Linked DNA regions of Homo sapiens. The protein of the gene in region 1 interacts with the protein of each later gene in a biochemical or structural test. Each region holds a gene or a part of one and is shown in the gene's direction. Other genes may lie near its edges. The genes, in order: NPLOC4, MAP3K1, ERCC6 and RIGI.

What was found.
Region 2: of the proteins of NPLOC4 (region 1) and MAP3K1, one has a biochemical effect on the other in vitro, tested with the Homo sapiens proteins (one large-scale study listed by BioGRID).
Region 3: the proteins of NPLOC4 (region 1) and ERCC6 form a complex in vitro, tested with the Homo sapiens proteins (one large-scale study listed by BioGRID).
Region 4: the proteins of NPLOC4 (region 1) and RIGI form a complex in vitro, tested with the Homo sapiens proteins (one study listed by IntAct).

Annotation. Positions count from the first base shown.
Region 1 is NC_000017.11:81,606,095-81,609,819, reverse strand, and holds part of NPLOC4 (nuclear protein localization protein 4 homolog), read left to right. Parts: intron 1-997; coding exon 998-1,092; intron 1,093-3,005; coding exon 3,006-3,129; intron 3,130-3,725. UniProt on the Homo sapiens protein: The ternary complex containing UFD1, VCP and NPLOC4 binds ubiquitinated proteins and is necessary for the export of misfolded proteins from the ER to the cytoplasm, where they are degraded by the proteasome.
Region 2 is NC_000005.10:56,877,933-56,881,657, forward strand, and holds part of MAP3K1 (mitogen-activated protein kinase kinase kinase 1), read left to right. Parts: intron 1-1,047; coding exon 1,048-1,169; intron 1,170-2,778; coding exon 2,779-2,870; intron 2,871-3,150; coding exon 3,151-3,340; intron 3,341-3,637; coding exon 3,638-3,725. UniProt on the Homo sapiens protein: Component of a protein kinase signal transduction cascade. Activates the ERK and JNK kinase pathways by phosphorylation of MAP2K1 and MAP2K4. May phosphorylate the MAPK8/JNK1 kinase.
Region 3 is NC_000010.11:49,453,767-49,456,567, reverse strand, and holds the end of ERCC6 (DNA excision repair protein ERCC-6), read left to right. Parts: 3' UTR 1-2,098; downstream 2,099-2,801. UniProt on the Homo sapiens protein: Involved in repair of DNA damage following UV irradiation, acting either in the absence of ERCC6 or synergistically with ERCC6. Involved in the regulation of gene expression.
Region 4 is NC_000009.12:32,491,653-32,495,377, reverse strand, and holds part of RIGI (antiviral innate immune response receptor RIG-I), read left to right. Parts: intron 1-1,435; coding exon 1,436-1,617; intron 1,618-2,826; exon of another isoform or gene 2,827-2,839; coding exon 2,840-2,987; intron 2,988-3,725.

The DNA of each region.
Region 1 (3,725 bases):
GTTACCGTAATAATGCCGACTGGAACTGTTAATGCTGGGTTTACAGCAGGAAGGCCAGCCCGATTTTCTTCATGAGGCATCTCTTGCCTCATCTTGTGGCATTTCTTTTTGCACAATTTTCCTGAAACTCATTTGACTTAGAGCGTTTTGTGTTTAATAGAGATTCATTTTAATCTTGAAAAGATAACTGGCACACAAAGAAAAACTTGCTTCTGGCTATGTGCAGTGACGCCTGTAGTCCCGACACTTTGGGAGGCCAGGGCCAGAGGATCATTTGAGCCTAGGAATTGTTCAGCCTGGGCAACTCTTTTTTTGTATACCCTGTCTCTACAAAAAATTTAAAAAATTAGCTGGGTGTGGTGGTTCACGCCTGTAGTCCCAGCTACTCAGGAAGCTGAGGCAAGAGAATCACTTGAGGTCGAGGCTGCAGTGAGCCATGATTGCACCACCATACTCCAACCTGGGCAACAGCATGAGACCCCATCTCTAAAACAGTTAAATTGGCCAGACTCAGTGGCTCACGCCTGTAAAGCTAACACTTTGGGAGGCCAAGGCGGGTGGATCATGAGGTCAGGAGTTTGAGACCAGCCTGGCCAATATGCTGAAACCCCGTCTCCACTAAAAATACAAAAATAAGCTGGGCGTGGTGGCGTGCACCTGTAGTCCTAGCTACTTGGGAGGCAGAGGCAGAAGAGTTGCTTGAACCCAGAGGTGGAGGTTGTAGTGAGCAGAGACTGTGCCACTGTGCCACTGCACTCCAGCCTGGGCGACAGAGTGAGACTCCGTCTCAAAACAAACAAACAAAAAACAATTAATTAAAAAAAGAAAAACTTGGTTCTGACTCAGAGTGGTAAGGGAGACCCTAGTACCTGCTTTCACTGTGGGCCTTGACTTGCCAAGGCCATGCTGCTGGCCTCCCCCTGTGCGTAGCAGAGGCTCAGCGCCTGGAGTGACCGGCACGTGTGAGACTGCACTCGCTTACTCTGTGTCTTGGCAGCCATTCGATGAGGACTATCTAAACCATCTCGAGCCTCCCGTGAAGCACATGTCCTTCCACGCCTACATCCGGAAGCTGACTGGAGGGGCTGACAAGTAAGCAACTTGCTGTAACCTGGTTGTGCGTAAATTCCTTTTTGTGTAGCTGGCAGTTGTTGCTTATAGCCAGTGAACGTGTGAATGAGAGAAGTAAAGATGAGAAGGGGTCACACGCCTTTGAAAGTTACCGTGGTTCTATATTTATTTATTTATTTTTTATGTACTCATATATGTTTTTAAGAGATGGGGTCTCACTATGTTGCCCAGGCTGGTCTAGAACTCCTTGGCTCAAGTGATCCTCCTGCCTTGGTTTCCCCAAAGTGCTGGATTACAGGTGTGAGCCACCTCGCCTGGCCAACCTGGTTCTAGAAGGGAGCTAGCAAGGCAGAGCGACTGTGCAGGCGCCTGGCTGCGTGGCCACAGTGCAGTATCAGACAGAGGCTGTCCCCACACACACCACCCCAGCAAGTTAGCATCTGTGATGGTGGCCTGTTGATTCTGTGGTCTGAGTTCATTCTCTGCTTTTCAGAAAAACAACTACCCTGTGAGAATCTCAGCTTCCCCACCTCAGTGCCTGGTAACCCTTTCCCCAGAGCCTGGCCTCTGAGTCAGCTTGGTTTTCAGCCACAGCAGGGGCTGCAGCCACTAATCCTCATGGTACCACAGTAGTTGCCCACAGGCTCAGCCAGGTGGGCAGAGGTGGTAACAGTGGCCAGAAAGGGGTGAACTGAGCATTTTGATTTCTTTTAAGCCATGGCAAGCCCTTGCCTGTATGACCTTCTCCTGTTGGCTCTCTGTACACCCTACCAGAAAGTAGCAGGCTTCAGCTATTATTTTATAATTCCTGTCAGTGCAACGAGGAGATGGTGGCTGAACTGAAGTCAGCAACATTTTGTGAAGGATGTCATATTCGCCTGATTGTAGCTTTTCTCTGACAACCTGCTGACATCCTAAAATGACTTTTTAAAAATGTTAGACCAGAAGAAAAAACCTGCTAGAAACCCACTGTTGCTTGTCAGTGGGGAAAGCTGTGGAACTCTCTGGACTAAGGAGTGGGTGCAGATTGATTGTAGTGAAAGAGACTTGGTCAGCCTTTCTCAGTCTAGGTCAAGGAACACAGTCTCTAGTGGGGGCGTGTTTGTGGCTGCTGTTAGCATGCAGATTCAGTGACGAGTCTTTGCTTCCTAGATGCTATGATACCAAAAATGGCTCACCACCAAAAATGATCAGTATGTGAGGTAATGCATATGTTAATTAGCTCAATTTAGCCGTTCCACAGTGTGGACATGTTTCAGAATATCATTTCGTACACTGTAAATATATCGTTTTTATTTGAAAAACAAAACCTCACGTCTACCTTAAAGATACAGATTTCTTTTTTTTTTTTTTTTGTCAGTTATATTTCAATAAAGCTGGAGAAAAAGAAAAAGTTCAGAGTAGGGTCCAGGATTTTCTCATTGACAGTCTTCAACAGTAGTTTTTATTTTAGCCTAAAGCAGAGTAAAGATGCCTTAATTATATATCCTAATCAGATTTTTCCCATGAATAAGAATTTTTTACAAATATCTAAGTACTGGGCTAATGTCAAAGTTTCTGACAATTTAATGAAACCTGTAGGAGCCTCATGCCCGCTCAGTGGCACAGGTGAGATCAGTAGATATTCTACAGTATTCTTGAAAGCTTTCTCGGATGTTAGTGATAGATGGTAAAAAACACCACAGTTTGGTAGGAAAGTAGTTGTGTGTTCCTGTATGGTTGAAGTATGTGGGACAGAAGCTGGGATTCGGAATGTGCTGGAACTGTAGGTAGAGCTTCCATTAGAATCATCCTTAGCCCATCTTCCCTGCTGCTGCCACGTGCTTAGCTCCTGAGACACTGTTCAGGAGGTATAAGATACTTAGCATGTCATTTCCAGCCTCTTGCTCAACTTTTCACCAATGTGATGTTTAAGTTGCTTCTCTTCTATGTAGGGGGAAGTTTGTTGCCCTGGAGAACATCAGCTGCAAGATTAAGTCAGGGTGCGAGGGGCACCTCCCGTGGCCGAATGGCATCTGTACTAAGTGCCAGCCGAGCGCCATCACGCTGAACAGACAGGTGAGATGTTCCCTGTCTGTCTAGATTTGTTTTCATGGCTGAGAAACGGATATTTCCAGAAGAGCCCCTTGGAGTGGAATGCTATTAGCACTATGCGTGGTGGATTTTCAGTACTTTTTGATGGACTGAATGATCCTTTTGTGGAAGTGGTACACTGAATATATCATTTTTAAGGCTTCTTGCTCTTGGAGATATGGAGTGCGCGCCCTCAGTTCTCTGTTTTGCTGGCTCATATGGAGGCAGAATGTTCCTGATGATTATTTAAAATCCTCAGTGGTTGTGAGGAAACTGGCTCTGAAGGTTGGTAAAGGGGCACCCCTTGGACCAGCTCTGAGCACCTGTCCAGGCTGGCTTAAGGAGAGAATGTGGCTCAGGAAGGAGGGAGCGTTCCGGCCTTTCTGGATGTTCTGCTGTCCTTGTCCCGCCTCTGAGTAGCCTGCCTCGCCTTCCTCCTGCCGCTGTGCCCTTAGAGAAAACGGCTCCTTAGAGAGAATTCCGTGGCCTCCTCGACTTTTTTGGAAACCTCCTATTCTCTATTCCTTTTTTCTTCTTGAAAACTACTTTATTTTGGCCGGGCAAGGTGGCTCACACCTGTA
Region 2 (3,725 bases), on another chromosome or scaffold:
CAATTTGGGTTTATCTGATGTTTTCTCATGATTAGATGGAAGTTACGTATTTTTCACAAGAACGCCACAGAGGTGACAGGCCTTTCTTAGTGCATCATATCAGTGGGTACATATGCCCATGGCTTTTATTATTGGTGATGCTGTCAGTTAAGGTAATGTCTACCAAGTTTCCCTGCTGTAAAGTTAATATTCCTAAATATCTTGTGAGAGTTACTTTGAGATTATGCAAATACCCTATTTCACCTCAAAATTTTGTCCACTGATTTTAAAAGCATTTGTGGATCTTGCCTATAGCAGTTATTACTACACCATTAAAAATGGTGCTCTCTTGGGCACAGGGAGGGGAGCATCACACACTGGAGTCTGTCGGGGGTCGGGAGGTAGAGGAGGGATAGCATTACAAGAAATACCTAATGTAGATGACGGGTCGATGGATGCAGCAAACCACCATGGCATGTGTGTACCTATGTAACAAACCTGCACGTTCTGCACATGTACCCCACAACTAAAGTATAATTTAAAAAATGGTGTTCTAGTGGTGATTTTCTATTTTCCTCATTCCTTCTACATTAATTAATTGGAATTATTCTATAAAGAAGAGCTTCTCTGTTTATATACCTATTCAATTTTTAATTTGTATTGGTGTAGGCTCCTGGGTATTCATTTTGTTCTGTGGGTTGCAACCCAGTACTACCATCATTTGTTTTGTTGCTCTAATTATTCCAGCCTTGACCATTGGGAGCTCTTTCAGGTTGGCGCCTGTTCTCATTTTCTTTTTTAAAATAATTTTTTTTAACTTTTCATCTTGAAATGAATTCAGACTTTTAAAAATTGCAGAGAAAAGAGTTCAGAAAATTCCTTCCTGCCCCATTCATTTATTTTGTTAGTTAGTTGTATTATTACAGAAGCATGGAATTCTTATTTTATTCTATGGGTTATAATCCATTCCTGTCTACTTATTTTGTTGCTCAAATTGTCTCAAATTAGGCCATTATCTCTGATGCTTTTTAAGTGTACATAAACTGACCTTCAGATTTTTTTCCTTAGAAAACATTGAGAGCCATGCTGGTATATACTCCTTGCCACAGTTTAGCGGAAAGAATCAAACTTCAGAGACTTCTCCAGCCAGTTGTAGACACCATCCTAGTCAAATGTGCAGATGCCAATAGGTAAGGCTTTATTGATGAATCACTTCAAACCCTCTTGTCTTAAAAGTGCCTCGCAGCAAGCCTCACACCTAGTGTGAATATCTGATACATTTTATTAAATGAGTCTTTGAACATTGTCTTTTAATGTGAGATTTAAAATGAAAATGCAGCATAAAGCTCTTAAGGACTGGCGGAAAGAACTACTGGCAAGTAAAAGCCAGGCAAACAAACTGCATGGATCTCCACATTATTGTATTGTGATTTACTCTCTTTAGTAACATTCATAATCTGAAGACCAGTCGATAAGAACAGTAGTTGACATTTATATCTATAAGTTATAATCTCATATTAGAGTATGGGTTACACAGAATAGGAACCAGTAAGATCATTACACCTGCATATGCCTTATTATCAGGATAAAAAATTAACAAATCCATCTCATTTTCAGTGTAGTGGAATTTTACTCTACTTATGACAGTTTTGTCAAAAAATTTTTAGATTTTTTATATTCCTGCAATATCCTTAAAAATTGACAGGGAACAAGAATAACCCTAACTGGAAAGAAAAATATGAAGTAGAGAATTGAGGTACAATGACAGTAAAGATGAGTACAAGCCATGCTTTTTTCAGACCAATGGTTCTCTTTTATTTTCCCCTTCCATAAAATAGGAGGAAAAGATCAATTTTCATTTAATAATCACAGCTACTGTGAACAGTTATTTGGTAGTTCCTATTTCTTTCTATCCCAGCAGATCTTGGTTAGCAAGAAGTGTTGAATCTCCCTTCTGTTGCCTCTTCCATTTCACCCATTTAGAGTTCTCTCAGTACAACCTTTCTCTTCCTCTGCAAGTCATAATGACTTAGTTTGCACAGGATCTCAAAAATTAGGTACCTACCTTTAACGAATTTCTCATATCATGAAGTCTGTCTTTTGCCTCTATTGTTTTCTCTATAGATTGAAAATATTGGATGTTTCCTTGTTGCTTAGAGAAAACATTGTATATCTGTAAAATATTGCAAATTAACAAGTAATTTGCAAAATGCATAGGAAAAATGTCATTTTTAAATATTAGAATAGGTATATTTCTGAGAATTCAGTGTTCTCATGGTATTTGTTATGCTGCTCACTTTTTGAAACTCCAAACTTAGGTTGTTTACCTGGTCACCTGAATGACTGAACATAAGAAATACTGTAGAGAGATTTTATAATATTCAGACCTCATTTTGGCTATGTAAGGAAATGGAGGGTTTTTGGATAGGAAGGTTTTGTTTTTAATTCAAGAGCTTCTTAGTGAAAGTTCAGAAATCAAAATATCAAGGTCCTTGTTTTTTCTTTTAACAAAATATAAGACTTTTATCTGATTTGGTATTTAAATCAGTACTTGCAAAGAGCCATTGTTGAAAATTCTGTGCTTAACATAGGGGATATGTTAAATTTACGAAATTAGACCTAATAAATGAATATTACTACTTATGGTGACATTGTTAATATGATTTTAGTGGTGGAAAAGTAAACACTCCTGAAAACATTATTTCTCCACTTTTTCACAAGGCATTACATTACTCCTCTAATATTGTATAGTGTTTTAGCCAAGATCCAGGATTGATGTTGCTTTTCCTTTGTTTTTAGCCGCACAAGTCAGCTGTCCATATCAACACTGTTGGAACTGTGCAAAGGCCAAGCAGGAGAGTTGGCAGTTGGCAGAGAAATACTAAAAGCTGGTAATAACTTTTCACTTAAAAGGAATATAGCATATTTTATCATGTTCCTGAGCAGCCTTGTCTAATCTCATAATCTCTCATGAGGCAGTTTACAGGATTTTGAAGTAATTTTATAAATTGATTCACTGTGTTACAGTTAGAAATGTGAATTACTCTGAGAGAGAAATTCTTTAAAATAGTTCAGAATATTTTTGTTGGCCTTACACCATTTAATCATGTCTTGTTTTAGATTTTAATATCACTATTTTTTAATCATTTATTTTTACTTTCCTTTTTGTAGGATCCATTGGTATTGGTGGTGTTGATTATGTCTTAAATTGTATTCTTGGAAACCAAACTGAATCAAACAATTGGCAAGAACTTCTTGGCCGCCTTTGTCTTATAGATAGACTGTTGTTGGAATTTCCTGCTGAATTTTATCCTCATATTGTCAGTACTGATGTTTCACAAGCTGAGCCTGTTGAAATCAGGTAATTTTTCTTCTGAAAATGTATTACTTGTATCTTCCTACCCTCCCTACACCCTCCTCAAGAATGACACATTTTAGATTTTTGAAAGACTCAGAGCATGAATAGGTTGCTGATACCTTAATATTTGATTGACATATGAAAACCCAAAGTCTGGGCTCTTTAATTAAAAATTCATAGATACTTTATGCTGAAATGGTTTTTGAAGTATACATGCTGTAAATTACTACCATTTTTTAAGTTTCCATGTATTTTTCAGTAATTGGAACTTATATGGTAATGAATGTTTTTTTCTTTCAGGTATAAGAAGCTGCTGTCCCTCTTAACCTTTGCTTTGCAGTCCATTGATAATTCCCACTCAATGGTTGGCAAACTTTCCAGAAGGATC
Region 3 (2,801 bases), on another chromosome or scaffold:
CAGCTAAGTACAGCCCTAGGTTTGGTGTGTATTCTCCATGCATTTAGAGAATCACATGACACAGACTGCTGCTATAATGTCATTTTCCCATTCTTCCTTTACTAATAAAATTTTTGAGTTTTACCTGGACGTCTGGCTGCTCAGCTTAAGACTACTTCTCAGCCTCTCTTATAGTTAATTGTGGCCATATGACTAAGTTTTAAACTTCCCAATTGGCCCTTTAAAGAAGCAGGGTATGCACTCTCCTTGACATTCCCCTTTCTTGCTGGCTGGGAGGCCAATGGGAGCTTCAGTAGTGACCTGGCATCTCAAGAGATGGAAGTGATGTGTTGAGGAAGGAGAAGTTGGCCTGCCAGTCTTGAACTGCTCTCCTTTGACCTGTTATTTAAGAGTAAAATAAAATACTGACTTGCTTAAGCTACTGTCTTTTGAAGTCTATTATAGCAATTAGTTTGCTTTAAATATGTAATTTATATTAATGGCCTTATACCATCCTTATTTTGCAACTAACTTTTCATTTAATATTATATGCAAGACATTTCTATTCCTGTAAGTATAGCTCTGCCTGCACAGAATTGTTGGATTAATGATGTAGATTTTAAATGTCAGTGGATGTAGCAGAATTGCTTGCATCAATTCACCCTCCATAAAAGGACCCATTTCTCCAAACCCTTGCCAACAGTAAGTGGTATCAATATCGATAGGTTGTTTTGTTTTGTTTTAACCAGTCTCGTGATTGAAAGTACCTTGTTTTCACTTGAATTTCCCTGATTACGTACAAAATCAAACATTTCCATGTTTATTGGCCATTTGTAGATCTCTACCGTACATTGCCTATTAGTGTTATGTTGGCCTAGTTTTCCTGTGGGTTGTTTATCTTTTAGGATTGCTCCCCTAAACAAAAACAAAAAGGCAGTTATTCCAATGATCAACAAATATTCTTTTCTCCACCAGTTTAAAATGTCAGCTTTCAACTCATCACATGCTAAGTTGTCTATTTCTGTCCTGTGGATCCAGGTGTTGGTTCTACCAACCACACTCCTCACGCTGTCATTTGGTGCTTTGCATTGTGTTTTGCCATTCATGGGCAAGTTCCTTTTCCTTTCTCCCCCTCTTCAGTGTCTTATACTTGGGTGTTTTCTGTTCCAGCTGAATCAAGAATTAGTTTATTAAATTCCAGTAAAATTGTGGTGTTCTTTTGACTAGGATTGCATTTGTTTACACATTAATTTGAGAATAATAGACCTCTTTATAATTAATATAATGTTTCTGATTAGTGTTATGATAGGCCTCATTTTATTAAAGTCTTTTATATTCTTGGATGAAATTTTAATAACTTTCTTCATAAATGTCTTGCACATTTCATAATAGGCTTATTCCTAGGTGTTTTATAGATTTTTAGTTTTGGTTGTGAGTCTTTTAACTTACATAAAAATATGGAGAATTAGCATATTCACATATCTATTTTGTGATGTTTATCATACGGAAGTTTTAAAATATAGTAAATTCAGTCTTTCCATTTTTTTTTGTTTATTTAAGAACCATTCCCTAGCTAGGGTCATGAATACATTCTTATGAATTATTAATCCCATATGGATAGCTAGTTTCCCTAGCACCTTTAAAAAATAGTTTATTATTTTCCTCCTGATGTATAAGGCCACCTTTACCAATTTACATATAATGTACGGAAATGTTTCTTGGCTCTGCATTCTGTTAAATTGGTCCATTTATCTAACTTTGCTTAGTAACCCACTGTTTTTATCATTGTGGTATCATAATTGATTATCACAAATGGTAGAATGATTGTCCTCAAAGTCTTTTCTGGTATATATTGATATAATTGTATAGCTTTTCTTGGTGTAGTAAAGTACACAGTTAAATTTTCTAACATTGAAATATCTTTTAGATTTTCACTTCCAGAATGGCAATGTGAAGGGCCCTGTGGACCCACTGTCCTAGGAATTAGCTATAACTAGTGAAAATTGTAACAAAAAATAAACACCTTCCTCTCATACAGAGAGACACAAACACTTAATGCCACTGGAAATTGTCCTAAAAGCATGTAGAATAAAGTAACGCTTATTCAAGAAAATCCAAATCTTGGTAAGAACAGTGAGTCAGACATTTCAGCCACAACACACTCACTCCCTCCCTCCCATTTCAGTGGGTGCAGCCAAGAAAACAGAGCTCCGTCTCCCTCAGCTCCCTGTCCAGAGGTATGGTACCTCACAGGGAGGGGCAAGATGCCAGCATTTCTTATCCCCTCCAGCTTCAAGTGGCAAGAGCTAAATTCATGAAGTTAAAAACTATAATAAGGAAAAAATGCACTAAAGGGGTTCAATAGTAGATTTGAACTGGCAGAAGAAATTGTCAGCCAACTGGCAGATAGAATAAGAGAGATATGCTTTCCAAAGAACAGAGAGAAAAAAAATGAAAAATGAGCAAAACCTCAGAGAAATGTGAAGCACCATTATGTGCACCATTAAGTATGCATGTAATGGGAGTACAAGAAGAGCAGAAGAAAAAGGAAATATTTAAAGATACAATGACTGAAAACTCTCCAAATTGATTGAAAAACATCTAGGAAGCTTAGTGAACTTCCAGCATGATAAATGCAGAGGGATTCACAGACACATCATAGTCAAAAATGCTGAAATCAAAGATGAGAAAACCTTGAAAGTAGTGAGTGAAAAAAAGATACATCACTTAGAGAACAAAATTAATACTTGACTTCTCAAAAGAAATAATGGAGGCCAGAAGGCAGGTATAACAGTCAAAGTGCTTGAAGAAAAAAAAACTGT
Region 4 (3,725 bases), on another chromosome or scaffold:
ATACAAAAATTAGCTGGGTGCGGTGGCGGGTGCCTGTAATCCCAGCTACTCAGGAGGCTGAGGCAGGAGAATTGCTTGAACCCGGGAGGCAGAGTTTGCAGTGAGCCGAGATCGTGCCACTGCACTCTAGCCTGGGTGACAGAGCAAGACTCTGCCTCAAAAAATAAAATAAAATAAAAACAGAAAATAATGCATATAGGTGAGGATGTGGAGAAACTGCAACCCTGTGCCTGATTGGTAGGATTGTAAAATGGTGTTAACAGCCATGGAAAACAGTATGGCAGTCCCTCAAAAAATTGAAAATATATATCACCATATGATCCAGCAATTCTGCTTCTGGTGTATTTCCAAAAGAATTGAAAGCAAGGTATTGATGAGATATTTGCACATCCATGTTGATAGTAGCATTATTCGTGATAGCTTACAAGGTAGAAGCAACTCAAATGTCCATCAGTGATGAATGGATCAACAAAATGTGATATACACATACAATGGAATATTATTCAGCCTTAAAAAAAAAAGGAAATCCTGGCACATCCTGCAAAATGGACATACATTGAGGGTGCTGTGCTGAGTGAAATAAGCCAGTCACAAAAAGACAAATATTGTATTTTGCCACCTATATAGATTATCTAAAGTAGTCAGATTCATAGAAACAGAAAGAGTGGTGGTTACCAGGAGCAGGGGTGAGGAGAGAAAAAGGAATAGTTGTTTCATAGAGTTTTAGATTTGCAAGGTGAAAAAGGTCTGGATTTTTTTTTTATAACAAAATGAATTTAACACGACTGAACTGTACATTTAAAAATAGTTAAGATGGTAAATGTTTTATCTGTTTTTTACTACAATTTTAAAAAAGAATGAGGTTGAACATCTTATGTATGTTTCTTGGCCATTAGTATTTTTCTCTGAACTTTCTAAATATGATTTTTAAATAAATATCTTTTAAAGGCATGTAGAATAATATTAAGTAAATTTCCCATTTACTTAATATTATCTTAGAAAAATTAGAAGGAAAGTTCCTTGTGGGCAGGAATTAAGGTTTATATTTCTTTTTGCCTTCTTTACTGCTTTCCACTGAGAAGATACTTAATAAACCTGTTGACTCTGACTTTTTAAAGACAAATCAGGGATTGTAGGTGAAGTCTATGAGTCACTTTGGAAGAAAGATTTTATACTAAGATCAAAATGTAAGACTTCAAAGTTTTCCTTAGTACTTTTTCCCAATAGATAATAAATATTGCTAGAAGACCTAAAGTGTTGGCTGACTAAAATGAATACTGTTTTCTTTTTGAAAAATCAATGACAATTGGGGGTAATTTACAGATATTTTTTGAATTCTACCACCATACATTCAAACATGATTTCTATGATACTAATCTCAAAGTATTTTTCAGTTGGTTTCATAAAAGTCCACATTTTTTTTCTTTTTTTTCAGGTTATTCTGGACTTTATGAAGCCATTGAAAGTTGGGATTTCAAAAAAATTGAAAAGTTGGAGGAGTATAGATTACTTTTAAAACGTTTACAACCAGAATTTAAAACCAGAATTATCCCAACCGATATCATTTCTGATCTGTCTGAATGTTTAATTAATCAGGAATGTGAAGAAATTCTACAGGTAAGTTAATATAAAATACTAAAATTGGGGGAAATAATTATAACATGGGAAGGTCTTCTGTTTTCTATACTGTTTTAGACCTGAGAAAGATCATTGAAACCCACAAAAGTACTCATAGAATAGTACTTTTTTTTTTTTGAGACGGAGTCTCGCTCTGTCGCCCAGGCTGGAGTGCAATGGTGTGATCTCGGCTCATTGCAACCTCCGCCTCCTGAGTTCAACCAATTCTCCTGCCTCGCCTCTCGAGTAGCTGGGATTACAGGTGCGTGCTACCATGCCCAGCTAATTTTTGTATTTTTAGTAGAGATGGGGTTTCACCATGTTGGTCAGGCTGGTCTCGAACTCCTGACCTCGTGATCCACCCGCCTTGGCCTCTCAAAGTGCTGGGATTACAGGCGTGAGCCACCGTGCTCAGCCAGAATAGTACTTTTAATGTGAACTGAGTAATTTTTATGTCACAAAGTTTTTTTGAAGTTTGCCCTATTTTCAGTTAAAATCACCACAGTCTGTGAATAGTATTTTATGCAAATTTAAATTGAACAGTTGAGCAAATGAGAAAGGGCTACAGACTCTAGCAGTTAAGTGTTTAGACTCTGGACACAGATGAATTTTGTTAGAATCATAGCTCAACCACTAGCGGTATGATCTTGGGCAAGTTACTTAGTTTCTCTGAATATCTATCTGTTTCCTTGTGTGTAAAATGGAAATAATAATGTTACCTTATAATATGGTATTTTCATAAGGGTAATGAGATAATATATGTAAAGTACTCATGTATGTCTTGCACAGAGTATGTGTACAATAAACTTTAGTTATTATGGTTAGTAAAAGTCATACAAATTCCTCAACCCTGAAGAAAAATTTGTTAATATTTTGTTATCTGTTTCCAAATATTGCTATATGCCAATATACCCATATTGGGAATGGTTGTCAAATGATTATTTTCTTAATATTGCTGATGAGGATAGGTATAAGAACTTAGAGGTGATGAGAAGGCTTGGCTTGACATAGTGACATCATGTGTAAAGGACAAAGATGAAGGAAAAAGTATCTTAAAAGACTGTGTTGGATGGGGCAAAAATTGTCATGGATATGACCCACTGAGCTGTAATGTACAATGGCTTTAAATCAGATAGTACATGACTGACATTTCTTCAGTAAAAATTGATAAAGGGAAAACTTTTGAGATAATTGATCAATAAACTACAGTTACCTTGCTTAGATTTGCTCTACTAAGGGGATGATGGCAGGTGCAGAGAAATTGGTGGAATGCCTTCTCAGATCAGACAAGGAAAACTGGCCCAAAACTTTGAAACTTGCTTTGGAGAAAGAAAGGAACAAGTTCAGTGAACTGTGGATTGTAGAGAAAGGTAAGACACTGTACCCTCCTCACAGCTCTACTTAGGACTCGCTCATTCCAACCGGTCTTTTACATCCCATCAGAGGCGTTTTTCCCCTCAGATAGCCAGAGCTACATCTCTAACGCGAGACCAGCAGGAAGCTGGATTCTGGGAGGGAGGCAGTTACTTGCCTACAAAATTAGTTTGGTTGCATATAACCCCTAAAAATGGACTGGGGAAAACCACTCTCATCCAGAATTAGCCCATCTGGCCCAAAGGATTTGAGGAAGGCAAAATCCGAACTCTCAGTCTAAGTTTAGATTATCAGAGAAATAGCTTGAGAATTCTAGAGTTAAAGGTTCAAACTCCAGGACTTACCCCCTTTTCAGAGTTGATTTCTTGACAGACATTGCCTGGTTCTCTTACTGGAAGCCATCTGGAACTGAATCCGACGGGTGAAAGAATTGGTTGTCATTAAGTGTCTGAACTATCATTTGGTTTCTTGAAGCTGACACTCAGCATTGTTTCAAAGGCTGAGTTTGGTAAACATCTGAATATCTGGTCTTAGCTTTCCTAGGCTTCTTTAGATCATAAGTTGTTTCAGAAACTGTATAAATACACATCTGATTTAATGGGTCAAGAGTCAGTCAGAAAAGGAAGACATGAATGTCTGCTAAATCATGCTCTTTTTTTTTTTTTTTTTTTTTGGTGCATACGAATCCCTCCGAGGTCTTGTTAAAATGTGGATTCTGATTCAGTAGGGCAATA